4 linked regions of the Homo sapiens genome follow. The protein of the gene in region 2 interacts with the protein of the main gene of each other region in a pairwise test. Each region holds a gene or a part of one and is shown on either strand. Other genes may lie near its edges. The genes, in order: L3MBTL2, NRF1, KLF15 and SP4.

Region 1 (6,942 bases), on a different chromosome or scaffold from region 2:
AGCCACACCCCATCTCTACAAAAGAAAAAAAAATTAGCCAGGTGTGGTGGCATGCGCCTGTAGTCCCAGCTTCTTGGAGCTGAGGTGGAAGGACTGCTTGAGCCTGGGAGGTCAAGGCTGTAGTGAGCCATAACCATGCCACTGCAATCCAGCCTGGGCAAGAGAATGACATCCTGTCTCCAAAGAAAAAGAAAAAAAAGCTGGGTGCGGTGGCTCACACCTATAATCCCAGCACTTTGGGTGACCGAGGCGGGCGGATCACTTAAGACCAGGAGTTCAAGACCATCCTGGCCAACATGGTGAAATCCCATCTCTAGTAAAAATACAAAAAATAGCTGGGCATGATGGTGGGTGCCTGAAATCCCAGCTACTCGGGAGGCTGAGGCAGGAGAATCACTTGAACCCAGGAGTTGGAGGTTGCAGTGAGCCGAGATTGCACCACTGCCCTCCAGCCTGGGCAACAGAGTGAGACTCCTTCTCAAAAAAAAAAAGCTGGGTGGTGGTGGCATGCACCTGTGGCTCTAGCTACTCAGAAGGCTGAGGTGGGAAGACAGCTTGAGCCTGGGAGGTCAAGGCTGCACTGAATCATGATCACACCATTGCACTCCAGCCTGGATGACAGAGGGAAGACACTGTCTCAAAGGAAAAAAAAGGTGTGAAGAAAGGAGAAAAGTTTGGCCTCTGGTCCAGAGCTCAAATATCTCTAGTGCTTACTCGCTGTATGACCTGCAGCAAGTCAATTTTGCAGTGCTTCAGTTTCCACATCTGTACAATGAGGATAGTACCACCTATTTCATAGGGTTTGGGGGCTGGCCATGGTGGCTCATGCCTGTAATCCCAGCACTTTGGGAGGCCGAGACAGGAGGATTGCTTGAGCCTAGGAGTTCAAGACCAGACTGGGCAACATAGGGAAACCCTGTCTCTATAAAAAATGGAAAAAATTAGCTGGGTGTTTTGGTTAGGGAGGCTGAGGTGGGAGGAACTCTTGAGCCAGGGAGGTCAAGGCTGCAGTTAGCTATGACTGCACCACTGCACTCCAGCCTGGGTGACAGAGAGCAACCCTGTTTCAAAAAAAAAAAAAAAAAAAAAAAAAGGATTTGGGGGAGAAGTAAGAGACGATACAGGCAAAGCTCTCAGAATAGTGACTTGCATATAGTAAGTGCTCAATAAAGGTTGCCAATTTTTACTGGTTGAAAGCATAGGCTCTGATTTGCCTGAGTTTGAATCCTGGCTCTAACATTTATTAACTGTGTGATTTTGTGCGTATTTTATCTTGCTGCTGTCATCATTACAAGAGAGGTAATAAGCTTTCTTTAGAGAATTCTTACGAAGATTGAGATAAGATATGTAAAACCTAGTTCTATTTCCAGCAGTCAGTAACAGCTCTAAAAGTGTGACTTGCTATTCTTATTCTCCACATGATTATTCTCGTTTACCCTTGCAGAAAGTTTGAGCTATTCCACCTTATATTTGCAACTACACATGCAAATATGCTAGAAAGGAAGCAATTTTTTTTTTTTTTTGAGACACAGTCTCGCTCTGTCGTCCAGGCTGGAGTGCAGTGGTGCAGTGGCCCGATCTCGGCTCACTGCAAGCTCCGCCTCCCACGTTCACGCCATTCTCCCGCCTCAGCCTCCCGAGTAGCTGGGACTACAGGTGCCTGCCACCACGCCCGGCTAATTTTTTTGTATTTTTAGTAGAGATGGGGTTTCACCATGTTAGCCAGGATGGTCTCGATCTCCTGACCTCGTGATCTGCCCGCCTCGGCCTCCCAAAGTGCTGGGATTACAGGCGTGAGCCACCGCACCCAGCAAGGAAACAATTCAAATATAGGTACCCTTGTCAGGCAGGGTGACAGAGACCACCTATAGTCCCAGCTACTTAGGAGGCTGAGGTGTAAGGATTGCTTGAGCCCAAGAGTTAGAGGCTGCAGTGCGTTGTCATCACGCCTGTGAGTAACCACTGCATTCCAGCCAGGGCAACATAGGAACACCCCGTCTCTTAAATATAAGGTGCCCAGAAACCAAATGATTAAAGGATGAGGCGGGGTGCAGTGGCTCATGCCTGTAATCCCAGCACTTTGGGAGGCCGAGGTGAAGCAGACAGATCACCTGAGGTCAGGAGTTCGAGACCAATCCGACCAACATGGCAAAACCTCGTCTCTACTAAAAATACAAAAATTAGCCGGGTGTGGTGACACATGCCTGTAATCCCAGGAACATGGGAGATGGAGACAGAATTGCTTGAACCCGGGAGACGGAGGTTGCAGTGAGCCGAGATCGCGCCACTGCACTCCAGCCTAGGTGACAGAGCAAGACTCCGTCTGAAAGAAAAAAAAAAAAGGATGAGTGGGTTCCAGGTTGCAGTACAGTGTGAAAAGCATAACAGGCAAAGTTTCAGAGGCGGACAGACTTAGTGCCAATCTCCTTCACTTTCCAGCCGGGGTAACTTCCTGGGGTGTCGCACCACCTCTAAGCCTCAGTGGCTTGAACGACAAAGACGAAAGAATAATACATGATTGCTGTGAGTGTACTGGAAGATAATGCACGTGAACGTTACAGACAAGGAGTGATGTTCACCCAACTTTAATCTCCCTTCACTTCCCACCTCATGTAACAGGCCTCACAAGCCCTAAACAACACAGCCACGAGACAAGCAGGATAAGGAAGATTCAGGAGCTCTCAGATCCTAAACCTAGTTCCCTTTCCCCCAGGCCAGGGACGGCTGTTCCTCCCTGAACTCCTCGCCGAACGTTGGCCCCAGCAGGAGAGGGGCAAAAAGTAACGTCAATTGCCTCTGCCCCTGGCTCAGTTTAACTACCTCAGTTTATCCATCCTCCCACCCTCCACCCTCCAGGCGTCGCTAAAAGCCCTAAAGAAGGGCCCACGGAGCGAGGCTCTCGGAGTTCCCTTTCCCAGTCACGCTAAGTCCTCGCCTTCTCACCTCAATACTCCGGGGCTTCTCCATGAGACCTCAGTTTCGCCAAGCGTCACCAGGTGCAGGAAGCCATATTGGCCTGCCCCGTCGCTCTCCGCGAGAGCACTCATTGGTCGCCTCCCTGAGCCGCGGGCCAATCACGCTGCAGGAAGGAGGAAAAGCCGGTTCCGTGCCTGCTCCCGCCATTCTCTCCCTGTGGGCGGGGAAGCCGCGGGCGGTTATGGGAATTGTAGTTCGCATGTGTGCAGGGTGAGTCGTTACCATAGCGACGTGGAAACCAGGGGCGCTGGAAACCTGGTGCGCCTCACGCCGAGTGTTCCAATTACGCCAACCTCTTGACTTCACTGGATGTTATTCTTCCCTAAACGGTTATTGAGCACCTATGATAGTCACTGTTCCAGACTCCAGGAATAACCTCGTACTCTCCCGGGTTAGATATTTAAGGTGCCCTTTTGCTGGGATGCATAGCAGAGGGACTCATTTCCAACTCAGGCAGAAACTGGACTACTCCAGATTAAAAAGAAAAAAAAAAGGAAGAAACTGGAATACTCTGTGTGTGTGTGTGTGTGTGTGTGTGTGTGTGTGTGTGTGTGTGTGTGTGTTTTCTTGAGACGAAGTCTTGCCCTGTCGCCCAGGCTGGAGTGCCGTGGCGCGATCTCGGTTCACTGCAACCTACGCCTGCCAGGTTCAAGCGATTCTCCTGCCTCAGCCTCCCAAGTAACTGGGACTACAGGCGCCCACCACCAAGCCCGGCTAATTTTTGTATTTTTTAGTAGAGACGGGGTTTCACCAGGCTGGTCTTGAACTCCTGACCTCGGGATCCACCCGCCTCGGCCTCCCAAAGTGCTGGGATTACAGGCGTGAACCACCGCGCCCGGCTGAAACTGGAATATTCTTTTTCTCAATACTGTAAATGTCCAGCCTGCTCAAAATCTTACAACATTCCTCCTTCACCACTCTCTCCTGGGTAAAAACCTCGAATCTGAGGCTCTCTGCCTCATCCCGTTAGGGTTTCCCACAACCTCCTTAGACACCCTGAGTTCTAGGTGCTGTTGTGGAGCTTTGCAAACATCTTTTCAAACCCTTAGACATCCTATCACCGTTTGAAAGAAGAGGAAGTGGTGGCTCTTCACCACTTCAGGTTTAGGCACTTTCCAAGATCACACAGGATTGGGATTCCAAATTTAGTACAGATTCCTTCCCTATGCCATGCCGTGTCCCAGTGAATTAATTGAGACTCTAAATGCAATATGTGGAGGCTGAATACATATAAAATATATGCCTAAATTTGAAGTCCGCCGTGGAGATGTCAAACTCTTCCTAGAGGTCTTTCTTTCCTTCAACCCCTTCCACCCTAAACCCCTGTATCCATGCTGTCAACGTGTTGGTTTTTCTACCTCCAAAATATATCCTGTATTTCCTCCACCACTACCACTCTAATACAAGCCACCGGCCCATTGCAGCAGCCCTTCAACTGGTCACCCTTTCTTTCTTTCTTTTATTGATTGATTGATTGATTGAGATGGAGTCTCCCCTGTCGCCCAGGCTGGAATGCAGTGGGATCTCCACTCACTGCAACCTCCACCTCCTGTGGTCACCCTTTTTAAATCTTCACCTTTAATACACACAGGTGATCTTTAAAACTCATTGACCTGGCCGGGTGCAGTGGATCACGCCTGTAATCCCAGCACTTTGGGAGGCCAAGATGGACAGATCACAAGGTCAGGAGATCGAGACCAGCCTGGCCAAGATGATGAAACCCTATCTCTACTAAAAATACAACTATTAGCTGGGTGTGATGACGGGTGCCTGTAATCCCAGCTACTTGGGAGGCTAAGGCAGGAGAATCGCTTGAACAAGGGAGTCAGAGGTTGCAGTGAGCCGAGATTGCACCACTACACTCCAGCCTGGGCAACAGAGCAAGACTCCATCTCAAAAAATAAAAATAAAAATAAATGTTCTGGAATAAGATAGTGGTGAAAAAAAAAGAAAAAGACAGGTTGGTTCAGCAAGTGCAAAGGCCACATTGGTGGAACAGCAAGTGCAAAGGTCCTGGGGCCAACTCAAGCTTGGTATGCAATAAACAGAAAGACAGAGAGAGTAGATGGATATAGCAAAACATGGAGAGGGTGATACAAGATGAGGTTTGAGAGAAAGCTGAGACCAGGTCATTCAGGGTCTTGTGGAGTGCTTGGATTTTATTCTGTGCAAGGGAACGGCATTAGAGTTTTTTTGTTTGTTTGTTTTTGAGACAGAGTTTCACTCTTGTTGCCCAGGCTTGAGTGCAATGGCGCGATCTCGGCTCATCACAACCTCTGCCTCCCAGGTTCAGGCAATTCTCCTGCCTCAGCCTCCCAAGTAGCTAGGATTACAGGCATGCACCACCACACCTGGCTAATTTTTTTTTTTTTTTTTTGTATTTTTAGTAGAGATGGGGTTTCTCCATGTTGGTCAGGCTGGTCTCGAACTCCCGACCTCAGGTGATTCGCCCACCTGGGCAAATGGTCTTGATCGCCTGACCTCGTGATCCGCCTGCCTTGGCCTCCCAAAGTGCTGGGATCACAGGCCTGAGCCACTGTGCCCAGCTAAAAATTTTTTAAAATTAGCTAAGTGTAGTGGCATGTACCTGTGGTCCCAGATACTCTGGAGGCTGAGGAGGGAGGATTGCTTGAGCCCAGGAGGTTGAGGCTACAGTGAACCATGTTCATGCCACTGCACTCTACCCTGGTGACAGAGAAAAAAAAAAGTTGTCTGGCTGGGCATGGTGGCTCACACCTGTAATCCCAGCACTTTGGGACGCTGAGGCAGGTGGATAACTTGATATCAGGAGTTCTGCCAGACGCGGTGGCTCACGCCTGTAATCCCAGGACTTTGGGAGGCCAAGGTGGGCGGATCACCTGAGGTCAGGAGTTCAAGACCAGCCTGGCCGACATGGTGAAACCCCATCTTTACTAAAAATACAAAAATTAGCCGGGCTTGGTGAGGCATGCCTGTAATCCCAGCAACTCCGGAGGCTGAGGCAGGAGAATCGCTTGAACCTAGGAGGCGGAAGTTGCAGTGAGCTGAGATCGCGCCATTGCACTCCAGCTTGGAAAAAAAACAAAAAAGGAATTCTAGACCACCCTGGCCAACATGGTGAAAACCCTGTGTCAATTAAAAAAAATTACAAAATATTAGCCTGGTGTGGTGGCACAAGCGTATAGTCCCAGCTACTTGGGAGGCTGAGGTGGGTGGATCACTTGAGGTCAGGAGTTTGAGACCAGCCTAGCTAACATGGTGAAACCCCATCTCTACTAAAAATAGAAAAATATTGGCCGGGCACAGTGGCTCATGCCTGTAATCCAAGGACTTTGGAAGGCTGAGGCAGGTGGATCACCTGAGGTCAGGAGTTCGAGACCAGCCTGACCAATATGGTGAAACCCCATCTGTGCTAAAACTACAAAAATTAGCCGGGTGTGGTGACATGCGCCTGTAGTCTCAGCTACTCGGGAGGCTGAGACCGGAGAATTGCTTGAATCAGGGCGGTGGAGGATGCAGTGAGCCGAGATTATGCCACTGTACTCCAGCCTGGGCGACAGAGCAAGATTTTCTCTCAAAAAACAAACAAACAAACAAAAACCAACAACAACAAAAAAGTTGTCTGGGTGGAATAGCACAATGGCAGGGCATAGAGCAGAAGAGGTGAGTTTAAGGGATTTATGTACATAGTTTGGAACAGAAGAGCACGTTTGTGTTGCTATTGGGAGTGATCTAGTAGAGAGAGACAGATCAATGATCCCAGACAGAGGGACAGTGATGCACAGAGGGAGGGCCTTAAAAGAGAGGAGCGTATTAGGTCCACATGTAGAGGGATGAATTAGTCCAGCCAAAAAGGGTACCTTTGCTGCAGGATGAAACCCCTGCCCAGGAGCTCCATAGCAGAAGGAACTGCCACACTGTTACTGTTCTGGGGCGGCCACTATTGCTTAGCAACCTGTGCTTAATAAGATGTTTCAACTGAATTCC
Region 2 (2,901 bases):
GATTTTGAATGTTGTCACCACAATGAATGATAAATCTTTAAAGAGATTAATATGGTAATTTTCTTGATTTGATCATTCTACAGTGTATACATGCATTGAAACATCACATTGTACCCCATAAACATGAACAGTTACTATATATCAATTATAAATCTTAAAAATTAATGAAAAAAATTTTAATGGGGTGGGAAAGAGATGTCTTTGTGCCTGGGCCATGGGTATGTGATCACCTGAGGCTGGTGACCACGATACCTCAAAGGCAAGACTTGGGTGCCCCCGTCCAGCCAGCATCTGGGAACTTGAGCCTGAGCCCCACCAACGGTCTTCTCTTTGTCTCTCCAGGCCTGGTCCAGATCCCTGTGAGCATGTACCAGACTGTGGTGACCAGCCTCGCCCAGGGCAACGGACCAGTGCAGGTGGCCATGGCCCCTGTGACCACCAGGATATCAGACAGCGCAGTCACCATGGACGGCCAAGCTGTGGAGGTGGTGACATTGGAACAGTGACATACAGCCATATTATGGCATCGTTTTCTAGTCTACTTCAAAATTTTTTACACGTTTGCAGAGGTGCAATCAAATGGAATTAAGTCTCTCGACTTTGGAAGGAAAGTTTTGTTAACCTTTTTTTTTTTAAAAGGAAGAAAGCGGATTTTGGAATTGCATTTTTTAAAGCACCACTCTTGATTTTCTGGGATTGGTGAAGAAACTGCATTGTCAATTTCACTGTCCCAAAAAAGCCAAATTGTGGCAGGACTTCTTTCTGCGGAAATGTGTGTGTATACTTATGTGTGTGTATGTGTGAGTGTGAATATATGTATATGTGTACATATGGACATACACATTTACATATATATAAAGTATATATATACATATATATATATATATATGTATGAAACCCGCATGGAATTATCTGTATGAAATCAAGGTGCGCTGTGGAAACAATAATTCACCCAGTTTAGTGGGTGGTAGGGTACGTGGCCAGACACAGTCACCCAGTTTTTGTTCATACCAGGGTCATGCGTTGAGCTACTGACAAACTCAGGCGGAGGTGACCATGCCCTTCACCAAAGCTGCCTCCCAGTGGCCACACAGAACTCTCCCTGCTGGACTCACCTGAGGAAAGAGGCTCCAGCATGGGGTGGGTCAGAGATGTGCTTGCAAGGTCCAGGGACTGCGTGGTCTGCCAGCTGAGATGCTCCTCGGGCTGGCCCAGGTGCTGACCTTGCCACAGGCAGATGAATGTCTTGAAAGCTCCCGGGCCTCAGCCTCCCATCTCCTCTCCTTCCCAGGAATCCTTGATCTCATGACTATTAAAATGTTGCTCTGGTTTTAAGGTCAGTCCTGAATTGCTCGTATATATGAACTGAAGGTAACCGAAGTATTAGGGGTTTGAGGAGTGCGTGCGTGTAAGTGTGCTTGTGTGTGTGCGTGCATGGTGGGGGAGAGGATGGGAAGGGGGCGGGGGCAGTGGAAGGGAAAGGAAGGAAAGAAAAATCGTCCTAGACCAGGATACACCCGTGGGAGCAATTTTCTCTACTGTCTGTAGCTTCACAGAGGAGGCGCTGGAATGAACAAGAAGAGACATCTGGTCTGTGGCCACAGCACCCTGAACGCCCCTGATCTTGTGTGATCTTGGAAGCTAAGCTTGGTTGGGCCCGGTCAGTACGCGGAAGGGAAGAAGGGACACCTGGCCATAGAAAACAGCTGAGGGTGTTTGCTGTGTTCCTGGATCAGGCCCTGCTTCAGAAGGGACTCCTGGAGGCCCATGTTCCTTGATGCAACCTCGTGGCCCAGGCCGGGAGCAGCTTGCCTCCTCAGAGGTGTTGACTATCTGGGTGTTCTTGGTAACCGTTAACTCTGTCTTTCTCAGCTGCAAGCCCTGAGTCTCCAGTAGCTGAATTCACCTGACTTTTCAACAGGCCAAATCTCTGAACCTTGAGTACAGGGACAGCTCCTCCTCCCTCCTCCCAGCTCTCCCCATGTGTGTGATGGTGTATTTAATGTGTTTTTTTAATGCGACATTAAAAGATTCTCCACGTCTTGCTCAACCTTTGAGAGAAGTTTCAGATTCTTGTATTTGCTTGTTTTATATAAAACTATCTAATGTTCTTTATATGTTCTTTTCTGTACGTAATGGGGGGAGGGGAGGGAAATTTACATATAAATAGTCCTAGTTCTACAATTTGTTATTTTTTTAATTATTATTTTTTATCGTCATTGTGAAGTTGTCCAGGGACTTTAAAGTCCATGTTCCTTTGTGGTGAAATAACCTCCAAATAGTTTGAGAAGTTGCCAAGACGAAGAAAAAAGCAAAACCCCAGTAGCAGAGCATGGATTCTGTGTTGTTTCCCATTCTGTCTTTGACTGCCTCATTCAATAAATAGTTAAAAATGTGGCAACAGGAAGTGGAATTGTTCATCTCTATAGGAGCTCTTGGCTTCTTAGGCAAAAGGAACTCTATCTTGGGGCAGCTCGTTCTGCGTTTAAAATGCAGTCCTACTCGAGATCAGCGGTCTCCGACCTGTGCCACTCCGACGCTGGGGACCTCCGTAAAGAAGACACTGAAGATTGCCCAGAGCCCCCTGCGAGCCCCATCACCAGACCTGCTCCATTTCATACATTTCATATATAACGTGTTTTCTTATACTGACGTTCTGGGGAAAAAATCGTATTTAAAAAATCCTAGGCCGGGCACAGTGGCTCCCGCCTGTAATCCCAGCACTTTGGGAGGCCAAGGTGAGTGGATCACTTGAGGTCAGGAGTTCCAGACCAGCCTGGCCAACATGGTGAAACCTTGTCTCTACTAAAAATAGAAAAATTAGCTGGGCATGGTGGCGGGCGCCTGTAATCCCAGCTATTCAGGAGGCTGAGGCAGGAGAATCGCTTGAACCCAGGAGGC
Region 3 (5,318 bases), on a different chromosome or scaffold from region 2:
TCAAACTTAGGGGTCTGGCTCCCAGCCTGCTCTCATGACCCCTCTGCATTGAGGCTTTTTCTGACCTCCTTCCCTCTGTAGGCAGAGGCCCCCAGTATGGTTGGGCAGGTTGTGAACTGCACAACTCTAGGGAGCACCATTTCCATTGCAGTTTCTGAGACTGGACTGTTTGCGGTGTTGTCTGGCGGATGAGGGTTAGTGTCTCAAGGAAGGGACGCCTTCATACAGAAGTGCTGTATGCACCAGCCCTGACATTATAGCTGCTCTAGAGAGACACTGGACCCCTGTGTACCCTCTGCCCTACAGCTCAGCACAAATCATAGTGCTGCCCTGTCTGCAGCAGGACCCACCAGGAACCAGGCCCAACACTCAACTCCATGCAGGTGATAAGAGCTCATCATTCTTGAATAATTGCCACGTGCTAAGCAGGGCTCTAAACCGTTACTGGTTGCCTTGTACAATCCTCACAGTCCTCAGGAATAGGTCTTTTGTTCTCCCTTTGTCTGGGTAGAGAAACTGAGGCTCAGGGAGCTTGGTGACTTTCCTAGTTTGCCTGGTTGGTAAGTGGCAGAGCTTACTGCCTACAAGGGCTGCATCTTACCCACCGGGTTCCCACATCCCCCACTGTAGTCCCCAGGGCTCTCTGTTGGCTGCTGTTTGGGAGAATGTGGCATGCAGGGGTGAGGCAGGGGGTCTTCTGAGGGCTCAGTTCCCAGGGAAGTTCCTCTCAGGTGCCAGGACCCTGTGGCAGCAGGGAGGGAATTCAGGTGAGGACAGCATGTTGTCCAGCTTGGTTCTATCTCATCTGCCTGTCCTTCCCAGGGTGTCACCATGACCAGAGATCTGTGTGGCCCCACGTCACCACCTGTGGCCTTTGAGATGAGTCTTGGAAGGTGGGCAGGAATGCCAGAGTCTTCATTGGATGAATGAAGAAATTGAGGCCCAGAAAGGACCATTCAGGGCACCCAGTGGGGTGGGAACTGTCAAGGCAGGAGCCTGAGACTCTGTCCCCTGGGCTGTGTGACTTGGCCTCTTTAAACCCTTGCCATGGTCTTGCCAGTCCAATGGGGCTGGCTCATCCTGGTTCCCTGGCCAGTGAGATGCTGGGTGACCCCAGGGCTGCAGCCTGGGAGGCGTGGCACTCTGTGTCTGCAGCTTTCTGCTTACCCCTGCCCTGGGCCAGCTCCTCTGCTCAGAAGCTGTGTGCCCAGCTGCAGCTGGGGGCAGGTGTCCTGCCCAGGAGCACAGGTGTCAGCTTTGACTGCCAGGGCACATTTATCCCATTTCCTCACTGGCACAGGGCCCTGTGACACACACACCCATCCAGGCCTGTACAGGAGGCTGGGGGGCTCTGCTGACTGGGAGTCCAGGTCATCTGCCATTGCCAGGGCAGGGGGCTGTGTCAAGACCTCTGCTCCAGCCTCAGGGGCCCTGTCTTGTCAGTGACCTGGACCAGGCCCTCAGCACCCTGAGCTTCAGTTTCCTCCTCTGACAGGCAGGGCAGTTGGGCTTCACCTAGTCTGGAGATGTGCTGAAAGCACTGCCCTGTGCCTGGTGCCACCACCACTCTGTGATGTGAGTCGGAGTTCCTGTCTCCTCCTGCAGGCCCTCCTGCCACCCCCTGTGCCTTGTCCAGAGCATGTTCTGCTGGGTCCTTCTGCTCTTCCACCCACAGGGTCAGGGCGCCAGGGCATCACCAGCCCTTACCAATTGCTGGGTGGGAACTGCTGCTCTGGGCACCGCCTCTCGCTGGGTGGCCCTGGTCCACAAAGGGGTGTTGGGCCTCGTGTCCCTGTGTGTGTGTGTGTGCGTGAGTACATGGGGGCATGAATTTGTGCCTGTGTGTGTGTGTGTGTGAGTATGTGTGGGCACATATTCGTCCGTGTATGTTTGTGTGCCTGTATGTGTGGGCATGTATTTGTCCGTGTGTGTGTGCGTGCATGCTTTGGGACTGCTCCTTGACAGTGTCTGCCCCCCTAGGGCTGCTTGCTGTGCCCACTCTTGCATTGAAATCCACCTCCTCAGCACCTACCATATACCAGGCATTGGGCTGGTCATGGGAAGACCACCGGGAACCAAGACAAACATGTCCTTTGTCATGGAGCTGACAGTCTAGTGGGACAGACTGACAGTCATCAAAAAGTTGAAGATAATTTAAAATCAAAACAACAGCAAGAATGAGGAGAGAGAGGTGTGTAATGCCACAGGAGCCTAGAATTGGATGCAGTCCTGGAGGGATTTCCTAAGGAAGTGACATTCGAGCTGAGCTCTAAGGAATGGGTAGGAGAGAGCAAGGAGGGGGAGGGAAGAACATTCTAGAAAGAGGGAACAGTATGTGCAAATGGCCTGTGGCAAGAAGGACCAAGGAAAGGTCAATGCAGGTGGAGCACAGAGCGGGATAGTGTGTCGTGGGAGGGGTAGGTGGGGTGGGAGGGACCTGCTGCCAAGCCAGGGGTGGAGAGGGCCTCAAATCCCTGAGGTTGGTGGCAAGCAGTCCAGGCCCTCGATGCAGCTTGGGCTCTTGACTGTCACATGAGTGCCTGCTCCCAGGCCAGCAGGGCCAAGAAAGCGAAATGTCGGGAGCCACCTGAACTCCCAGATACACTTTGCAGGGTCAATCTTTATTTGGGCCTGCCTTAGAGGGCCCAGCTTCCAGCACAGCTGGTTTCAGGAGTGGGTGGACTCAAGTCTGAGGACCTCTCTCCCTGTGCTGCTTCCTCCTCCCAGGCCTCCGTTTCCCCTCCGGATGGGCGGTCCTGTACAGGCCTTCACAGATGCCCCTGTGGAGTTCTGGTCCAGTGGGGTAGATGAGGCCAGGGTGGTGAGAGGCAGCCAGCATCAGGGCCTGAGCGACTGAGTGCACCTGTGGCCTCAGAGACCCCTGCACACTGGGTGGGCTGTGGGAGGGAAGCCCTGGTCCCTGGTAGCATTGGGGTCCTTTCCTGTTGGGAGCTTTTACCAGCTGCTCTGGCAGTTCCCAACAGAGAATGCCCACTGTGCCAGCATGAGCCTTTACTGTAGTTCTTTCCATCTTGGAGGGGTGGCAGGGGCAGCTTGGCACAGTGGCTCACGCCTTTAATCCCAGCACTTTGGGAAGCTGAAGTAGCCTGATCGCTTGAGCCCAGGAGTTTGACACCAGCCTGGGCAACATAGGGAGGCCTGGTCTCTAAAAAAAAATACAAAAACTATCTGGGTGTGGTGGGCACACCTGTAATCCTAGCTACTCTGGAGGCTAAGGAGGATTGATTGAGCCCGGGAGGCTGCAGTGAGCTGTGATGGCGCCACTGCACTCCAGCCTGTCTCAAAAAAAGAAAAAAAAATGGTATTTTGAGAACTGGTATAGCCTTACCGACGTAGATGGGGGACCCTCCCCTAATCCTGTAGAGGCTGCAGGTCTGCGCAGCCACCCTTTGGGTGAGTGCCAGGTGCACGCCTTGCATCCCGGCAACTTCGTGGGGTCGGGGCAGGCAGGGGCAGGCAGGGCCAGGCCTCGCTGACCGCGCCATGTCCCGCAGGTTCTCGCGCTCTGACGAGCTGTCGCGGCACAGGCGCTCGCACTCAGGTGTGAAGCCGTACCAGTGTCCTGTGTGCGAGAAGAAGTTCGCGCGGAGCGACCACCTCTCCAAGCACATCAAGGTGCACCGCTTCCCGCGGAGCAGCCGCTCCGTGCGCTCCGTGAACTGAAAGCGCCCTGAACCCCAGCCTGTCCGTCACCCCGGATCCCCACCCCATCCCCATTTTTTTAAGCAATAATTTATTTGCCTCCTCCAGAGGGACATGGCAATGTTACCAGCCCACCTTCTGAAGCCTGGGAGGTGTGAACCCAGGGCCCGCCAACCGCTGCCTTTCTCGGGAGTACTTAGAGCCTCGAACCCGCGTCCCTGGGGGCTGGGCCCCAGGCGCACGGGGCTGGAGGCAGGCCTTCGTGCCTTCGTGCCTTCGTGCCTTCCCGCGGTGGCCAGGCCTCTGCTGCAGCCGCTGGTTGCAGGCAGAGTTTTGGGGACCTGGCCCTTCTCCCACTGGGCTCCCCCATCCTGGGCCAAGGCCAGAACTTTAGTGCTAGGGGAAGATGAAATGTGCAGTTTTGAAATGTTGGGTTTCCAGAGAGAGTCATGCTGGAGGAGAAGGAAGTAGGCCAGAAGTCCAGGGCTGCACTGTGGTGTGAGGGTGGCTTTGTCTAAGATGCCTGCTCAGCATGATCACCAGAGGGTGTGGGCAGGTCCCTGGAGCCGGGGGGGGGGGGGGGGGGGGGGGGGGGCAGGACCGGGCCGCTGGGCCCTCATGTGGGAGAGAGGTGAAAAGCGTCCCCCACTAGGGGGCTGGCAGTGCATGTGCTTGAGTTAAATGTGCAGGGCAGACAGAGCCAGAAGGGCCTGTACCCAGGGGCTCGTCCCCTCCTCCGGTTTCCCAGACAAATCCAGACACCAGCCTTTAGGGTGGCCTTGGGAGGAGAGGGCCAGGCTGTCCTGGGTGTGAGAGAACTAGATAGAGCCTCCCAACCCTGATTTAGAAATGCATTCCTTATTTTGTCTAGAAATTAATAAATGAACTAGCTTGTTTTGACAGGTTTATTTCACATCCTATGAATGTATGTAAATAAACTGTACATAGGTCCATCCACATAAAATATCTTTTAATAACATATCAACATTTGTGTAAATTTGAAATTTAAAAAAATCTATGAAGCTGGTGTACATATGTTACAATTACGTATATTTTCTTTGGTCCTTCATAAAAATATATTTACTTTGCCAATAAAAAGAAAAAGAACTCACAGCTTTTGGCATTCATGTGCTGTTTTCCTGCTTTGCCGGGATGTGGAGGTGACTCTGGGGCCGAGTCTATGTCTCCACCTTCGCAGAGTTCAGGGAACTCTGTTTTGTATTTGGAGGGATAGAAAGGCCCCTTGGGGTCCAGCCCCGGTCCAGCAGGGTAGGGTTCCCATACAGCTCAGCTCCAGGCCAGCTGCTGAGATTCTGCTCATCCCGGCTCCCTGACCTGGAGCTCCGTAAACCCAAATCCAGCCCACATTCCGACAGCACCTGTGGGAAGCTGCCTCAGGCCTGGCCAGTCCTGCGAGGCTCACCTACTCTGCTATCGGAGACCCTTTCTTGCACTTCCTACCCCCATCCAGTCCACCAAACCTATTACACATGCCCTATATGTTTGCTGTGCCTTGGCAGAGTATTTACCCCCTTAGGAACGTGGCTGTGCCATTTCCTACTGGCGTGGGTAATTGTGAAAGTGTTAGGAATCCTGAGCAGGCAGAGGTGAGACTCGGAGAGGCCAGTATATGCAGTTACGTCCTGTCCTCCATC
Region 4 (7,044 bases), about 110 Mb from region 2:
TATTGAATTATAACCCAAAGAACAAAAGAACTACTCATGAGACCATACCAATGTAAATAAATGATTGCATAAATAATTGGAGAAGAAAGTATAAGTGGTACAAAGAACAAGGAAAATTGAAAATGACCTTTCAAACATCACAGTAATAACTGCTGCAGGCAAGATCCACTGAGGAATGCTAAAAGTGAAGCTTTAGTATTTTATTTGTAAAAAAGCCCCCCAAACTCCTCTAAAATAGTAATTATTGTGGTGGTTTTAACATATGTCCACAAATTCTTCGATACTTCTCCCTTCAGGAGGTGAAGCTTAGTTCTCTTCCCCCTGAATGTCGACTGAACTTAGTGACTTGCTTCTAACAAACAATATGGAAAGAGAGAAACTGTAACTTTACAGTGAAGAAATGTGGCACACCCTACATTAACCAATACATCAGGGTTAACATCACCAATAATGAGATAATCACATTACATACTTCCTCTTATATGATAAGAGAAAGACACTAATGTGCTATTCTTCTCATGACAATTCACAATCTTACTCTAATCATTAGAAAACATTAGACAAACCCAATGTGACAGACATTCTAAAAATACCAAAACCACTTTCAAATGTGTCCAGGTGATAAAAGACAAGGAAAGGACTAGGAAAAGTCACAGATTGCAGGAGACTAAGGAAACATGACAAACAAATGCAGTGTGTTATTCCAGACTGAATCCTGGAAAAGAAAAGGTATATTGGTGGAAAGTGTAATTAATAGTATTGCAACAATGTTAATTTCTTAATTCTCATAAGGTACTGTGGTTATACAAGAAGTTTACAATAAGGGAAGCTTGGTGAATGATATGCGAACTCTATGCTAGCTTTGCAACTCTTCTCTAAGTATAAAATTATTTCAAAATAAAAATAAAGCTGCAGGGAAGAAATCAGGTCACCTACAGAAAAAAAAAACAAGAAAAAATAACAAACCTCTTGTTGATAAAACAGATGAAAGAAAATAGAGCTGTGACAATGTTTTAAGAGAATGTAATTTTCAATCTAGAATACTGTATTAGCCAAACAACCAAATTAAGCAGAAAGAGAAAATAAAGAATCCTTTAGACAAATTTATTTCCCCAAGCTTTTCGTTAGGAAGCATTTCAGCACGTTTTCCAGCAACGAAGAGAGTAGACCAAGAAAAATGAAAACACGAGATCTTGAGAACCAATATGAGATCTAAAACGAACAGAGAAGGGAAGAAATCTCAAGATAATACCCCTGGAACAGGTCTACAGAAGAAACTGTTCATGTTCATTAGAAAGATGGAAGGCTCCAGAAAAAAGGAAAATGTGACTGGAATTCACATTGTTCTTAAAAACTTGAAATAACTAAAGATTATTTCAGGTAAAGTCAAACAATACAAGAAAAAAGAAAAGGCATTGTCTAACTTTATTGGAAATAGAGTGGTGAGTTAAGAGAGAATGCCTGGCCTGCATACAGTTTTTCAAAAGAATCTTAATGTCTTCAGATGGTGCAAAGTGAAGTAAATCCTTAATTCTAAATGCAAGAACTCAATAGATAGTATAAAATATTGATAGATCAATAAATAACAGTGTTTAAGTATATGATTTAGATACATGACAGTCATCCTAGAAAGAACAAAAATGCAAAAATAGTTAAAATAGTTAGCTATGATATTCTCTGGAAAGCAGGATGGGGTGGGGCAAAGAGCCTCCTTATTACAGTAAACTTTTCTGTGATTTCATTTTTAAATACCATATGCATATATTGTTTTGAAAACCTTTACAAATTTTTTTAAAAAGCAAACAGATCACTATTTTCAGCAGTGAATACAAATAACTCCATTCATTCATAGCCAAGTCAATAAGTTTCTATTTGTAGTAGTGGTTAGACATCAAATAAAGCATAGTTGTTGCTACGAATGGTTAAGGCTTTCAACTTAACATATTAAATGCTTAATCAATACTTATTTCAAAATATATTTTTTCATATTCTTTTAGACAAATTTAACAAACAGGAGTTACTCTGTTAAATCTTTAAAAGTAACAATTTTAAGTATACTGATATTAATATTTTTTAGTGTCAACCTGTTTTAATTAAACAATTTTATGTGTGATATATTTAAGATGTTTGAACCACTGAAAGTAAGCTTAAAGTATATTGGATTATGAATTGTCAATCCAGTAGATAATAATGGTGTGAATCTTTTTTTTAAAGATATGCCCCAAATCATAATATTTGGTTTTGAAGTATATGTATATATAAATTCTTAAATAAATTTGTTTTGTGTATCTGCAAGTGTGTGGATGTGTAAGAGAGAGGGACTTTACCAACTCATCATTTCTTAGACAAAATGAAGCAATCATAATGTGAGGTTCCAAATCAAACAAAGTAGAAAATTTTCTTGGCTTCCCTAATTTATCCCACTGCTAATCCAGGATGGAAACACTGCATCCTTTCATGCAGACCTAAATAGCAGAGTATTTTTCTAAAACAGATATCAACAACTGGTATGGAATTAACTTTTAATCAATCATATTTGCCAACGTCAATGGTGTATATACTATACAGAAAGATTTCAAATTATCTTTTTTAAAATTAAAATTCAGAGCTTTACTATAATGCTAACTTTTTCAGGGATTGCGACGCTATACTAACACAGGGTGAGCATCCCTAATACAAAAATCTAAAATCCAAATTGCTCCAAAATCTGAAACTTTTTGAGTGTTGACACGATCCCACAAGTAGAAAATTCCACACATAAGTACTTAACACAAACTTTCACACATAAAATTATTAAAAATATTGTATAAGATTACCTTCAGTCTTTATGTATAAGGTATATATGAAACAAAAATGAATCCCCGAAGTATTGCATTGTGCACATGCAAAATCTGAAAAAATCCGAAATCTAGAACATTTCTAGTCCCAAGCATTTCAGACAAGGGGTACTCAATCTGTACTCATTTGTATTACTACTTTATGTGTATATCAAATTAAATAACTTTATATTTACCATTTTTAATAGATTTCATAATTTTTTCTTTTCTGATACTACTTTCTAATCTTAAAATGGAGCTAATTTCTATGCCGGTGTTGCTGTTGTTAGAATCAAATGAAGTAATATATTCAAAATATCTGACTATAATATAGCAGCTGATTTAGAAATGTCAGTTTTATTTCTCCCTTTGTCCCACATGTATCTTGGTACAGGTTTAAAGTATAAAGTATAATTCAATAATTTATTGAAATTAATTTATTCAATAATGAAATACTGAGTCCCAAATTCTAAATATTCTGAAAAGGGTAGGTGTTCTGGGCAAAAAAAGAAAAAAAAATAAAGAAAGAAGGAAAATTGCCCAAAAAGAAGTCAAGGCTTAATATAAAACCACAGTCATTAATATAGTAAGAGCATTGGTGTAGGAACTGGCAAATAGATAAAAACTTCAAAACAGAGAAACCAGAAATTGAACCACACTTAAAGGAGACATTATGTAAAAGAGGACAATCAATAGAGACAGAATGGGCTGTTTAAGAAAGGGCTTTCCATATGAAAGAAAAATAAAATTGTATTCTCATTTCATTCCATCAACAAAAAGAATCTTGAGCGAATAAAAGATCAAACTTACAAAAATAAAACTTTAAAGCTATTAGAAGAAATTGTTTTTTGAGACTTTATGACCTTGGGACAGAAGAAAAATTTATAAACAAAAAGCAAAAGACAAAAGAAAAGATTTATATTTGACTAAATAAAAATGTAAGACTTCCATATGACAAAAGGTATGACAAAGATAAAAGACTAGCACTAGTCCTTTATTGAAAGGGAAAAGTATAACATATAAATCATATAAATAAGGAAAACTTCTGAAAGAAAAAATGAGAACCAGAATTAAAAAACAAAGCCATAAATGACTAATATACATATGAAAGGTGCTTAATCTCATGGATAACCATGAAAAACACAAATTTTTAAAATAAGAAACAATTTTAGATTGAAAAAAACTTTCAAGGCCTGACACTACTGGGTACTGGTGAGCACAAAGTGGAAACTATCAATCACTGCTAGTTAAATAGCCACTGTAGAGACTCTTTAGCCATTACCTAGCAAAACCAAACATACACATTCTCTATGATCCAATAATTCCACTTCTCACACATGTTCTCATCAACTAAGTTTGTGATAGCACACACAAACCCTAGCAATAACCTCAAACAGTATGGGAATGAATTAATATAGTGTGGTAGACTCATGTGATAAAATATTATATAGCAGTTCAAGGAAATTCATATATGCAAATATACATATATGTACAAACAGATCTCAAAACAAGTGAAATTTATAATTCTGCAACATTGTAACATTTCATAACACACACAAAACATTTTTTATGTAGATCCATTAATCATATATGTCAGAGTATTAAAAGTGTACGTAAAACTTAGACACATTAGATTTATAGCAGCTGCAGTCTTTGAAAGGTGAAAGGGTAAACATGATGTTCACTTTATAACTGCTTTGCTGTATTTGAAAAAAAGCAGAAAATATAATATTAACAACTGACCATTCTGACTGAGGGTTGTTAGATGTTTATTATTTAATTATTCTTGATACTTTGGTGAATTTTCTGGATTTGTTAAGAAAAAAAAAAACTAAAACACACTAATGAAAGTCCCCATTAAGATGATAATTCAACTCTCTTTTCACCTATTTAAACACTTATGAAAAACAATGTATGATTTCAACATGCTAAGATTACAATATAAACAAATGGAATAAATTCCACTTGTCTCATAAATATGCTGATAAAGTTTACAAAAAGTAGAATAAAATGTATCTCAGAAATGAGGTTAAAAATGTTCATCTTAAACATCTTCCATATAATTGCTAAAGTAAATGCCTTCTCCTTCATTTGCATATTTCCAATTTGATAGCTAAACTATCACTAAAATTTTCATGTAAAAACTGAAGAAATAAGTAAAAAGTACAAGTCCTAAAATCAACTAACCTGTATGGGTTCTTCTATGTCTCTGGAGCTCATCACTCCGTGTGAATCTTTTGCCACAAAACATCCAGTTGCATATAAAAGGTCTTTCTCCAGTATGCCAGCGAAGATGTGCTCGTAAATGAGATGTTTTGCCATAAACTTTACCACATCCTTCAATATGACAGATATGCTGCTTCTTTTTTCCTGGTTCATTACTGCCTCTAGCAAAAACAAAAACCGAACATTAATTACACTGCCAAATAGTAGGTTTACAATTATAGAAAAATTAAAAAGAATCAAGGTAATTAAATGATGCTTCTCTGAATAGGTTTGATCATGATGCCATAACTGTAGTTCAAATCAGAAAATTTTCAGTTAAAGACAAAATAAAACAGGTCTGTGTACCAAATTGCTATGAAAATGTGTTAATCTCAAAGAGTTTATGCTCTATTATGGACTCACGTTCCTGGTCATAGTGGGCTCTTCCCTTGGGAAAAAAATCTCTCTAAGCCTTTCAAAACACTTGAAACTTCTCTAAAATTTCAAAAGGATGGCTAAATCCAGTTAAAAGTGTAAGATGCAGAGTTTCGTTTCTAGCAGGGCAGTGTGAGGAGTTCCATGGATCTGTTTCCCAGTGAAAATTCTAAAAAAAGCAAAAAATACCATTTAAAGTCTCTGGAAATGGTTCTAAAAGCAAATAACAGCAAATAAAGAAACATTTATTCAAGAAAATCTCACAGAAATTGGTAAGAACAGTAAGAGTCTGTGGTATTTGAACCAAGACTCTCCCCTTCCCTACTTCCTCCCGTTTCCACACAGGAACATTAGAGACTGGTGCAGCTAAGAATATGATTCCTACTCTTCCCACCTCCCGGTCAGAGGAGTATGGCCCCAGGAGGGGCAAGATGTCTGCATTTCTTATCTTACCCCTGGTTGCCTGTTGCTAAGTTCCAGGCAAGTGTAGCAGAACCAAGTCCTTAGCCCTGGGACATAGACTCTACCTTGGATGTGGCATGATGAAAATACTGGGGTCCAGGTTGCCCTTGACCTGGCCCATTCATAGTTCATAAAGTCAAAGTTCTAAGCCAGGAGAGGCCAGTTGAGAAGACCTGAGGCTATTGCTGCCCCAGCAACCAGGCACTCAGCTCTTAAAGCAGGGTTGTAACTCAGAAAGAAAGCCACTGTCTCAACCCCCGGTTCAAAAGCCATAAGTCAGAAACACACCATAAAACAAAGAGCTCCAAATCTCTTCCCAAAGGAATTGACTTCATTTGCAAGACAATGTGAAGAAGTTCAAGCCTAAGGGTACTCTCAAAAAAAGTAGAGATGGTTTCAAAAGGCAGTTAATTGGGAGAAGACTAAGAGATTCACTGGAAATAAAGGCTTAACTACAGGTTGGCTAGTTTGCCAGAAAGAAGTGAGCAAAGAGGCTGTGAAGAACCTTCTTAGGGTCAGAAAAAATGTCAAATATTGAGATTCTTGGGAAAAGTAAACAAAACTAACAAACTTTTAGCTAGACTGACCAAGAAAGTAGGACTCAAATTATTAGAATCAGAAATCAAAGAGGAGATATCACTACCAACCTTATAGAAACAAAAAGGATTACAAAGGAATACCATGAACAATTCTACGGCAATTACTTGGGTAACTCAGAGGAGATGGACAAATTCCTAGAAAAATACGGACCAAAATACTAAAACTGACTCAAGAACAAATAATCAATCAGAATACACCTACAACAAGCAACTAGACTGAATTCGTAATTAAAACTACCCATAAGAAAAGCCCAAGAACAGACAGCTTCACTGGTAAATTCCACAAAACATTTAAAGAATTAATACCAGTTTGGAGGGAATACTTTCCAATTCATTCTATGAAGCCAGTATTATCATTACCAAAATCAGATAAAAACAATACAAAAAGAAAACCACAGACATCTCTCTTATGAATATGGATGCAAAAATCCTCAACAAAATACAAGCACACTGTCAACATTGTACCAGAGGTTCCAGACAGAGAAACTAAGCAAGAAAAAGAAACAGAACTCCTGCAGAGTAGAAAG

What was found.
Region 1: the proteins of NRF1 (region 2) and L3MBTL2 interact in binary tests that used the Homo sapiens proteins (3 or more experiments, as listed by UniProt).
Region 3: the proteins of NRF1 (region 2) and KLF15 interact in binary tests that used the Homo sapiens proteins (3 or more experiments, as listed by UniProt).
Region 4: the proteins of NRF1 (region 2) and SP4 interact in binary tests that used the Homo sapiens proteins (3 or more experiments, as listed by UniProt).

The regions. Positions count from the first base shown.
Region 1 is NC_000022.11:41,201,388-41,208,329, reverse strand, and holds the start of L3MBTL2 (lethal(3)malignant brain tumor-like protein 2), read right to left. Parts: upstream 3,019-6,942; 5' UTR 2,968-3,018; coding exon 2,944-2,967; intron 1-2,943. UniProt on the Homo sapiens protein: Putative Polycomb group (PcG) protein. PcG proteins maintain the transcriptionally repressive state of genes, probably via a modification of chromatin, rendering it heritably changed in its expressibility.
Region 2 is NC_000007.14:129,754,676-129,757,576, forward strand, and holds the end of NRF1 (nuclear respiratory factor 1), read left to right. Parts: intron 1-342; coding exon 343-506; 3' UTR 507-2,401; downstream 2,402-2,901. UniProt on the Homo sapiens protein: Transcription factor that activates the expression of the EIF2S1 (EIF2-alpha) gene. Links the transcriptional modulation of key metabolic genes to cellular growth and development.
Region 3 is NC_000003.12:126,342,093-126,347,410, reverse strand, and holds the end of KLF15 (Krueppel-like factor 15), read left to right. Parts: intron 1-3,515; coding exon 3,516-3,684; 3' UTR 3,685-4,776; downstream 4,777-5,318. UniProt on the Homo sapiens protein: Transcriptional regulator that binds to the GA element of the CLCNKA promoter. Binds to the KCNIP2 promoter and regulates KCNIP2 circadian expression in the heart. Is a repressor of CCN2 expression, involved in the control of cardiac fibrosis.
Region 4 is NC_000007.14:21,480,083-21,487,126, reverse strand, and holds part of SP4 (transcription factor Sp4), read right to left. Parts: intron 5,626-7,044; coding exon of another isoform or gene 5,547-5,625; exon of another isoform or gene 5,204-5,546; coding exon 5,004-5,203; exon of another isoform or gene 5,003-5,003; intron 4,703-5,002; coding exon of another isoform or gene 4,674-4,702; exon of another isoform or gene 4,569-4,673; intron 4,517-4,568; coding exon of another isoform or gene 4,503-4,516; exon of another isoform or gene 1-4,502. UniProt on the Homo sapiens protein: Binds to GT and GC boxes promoters elements. Probable transcriptional activator.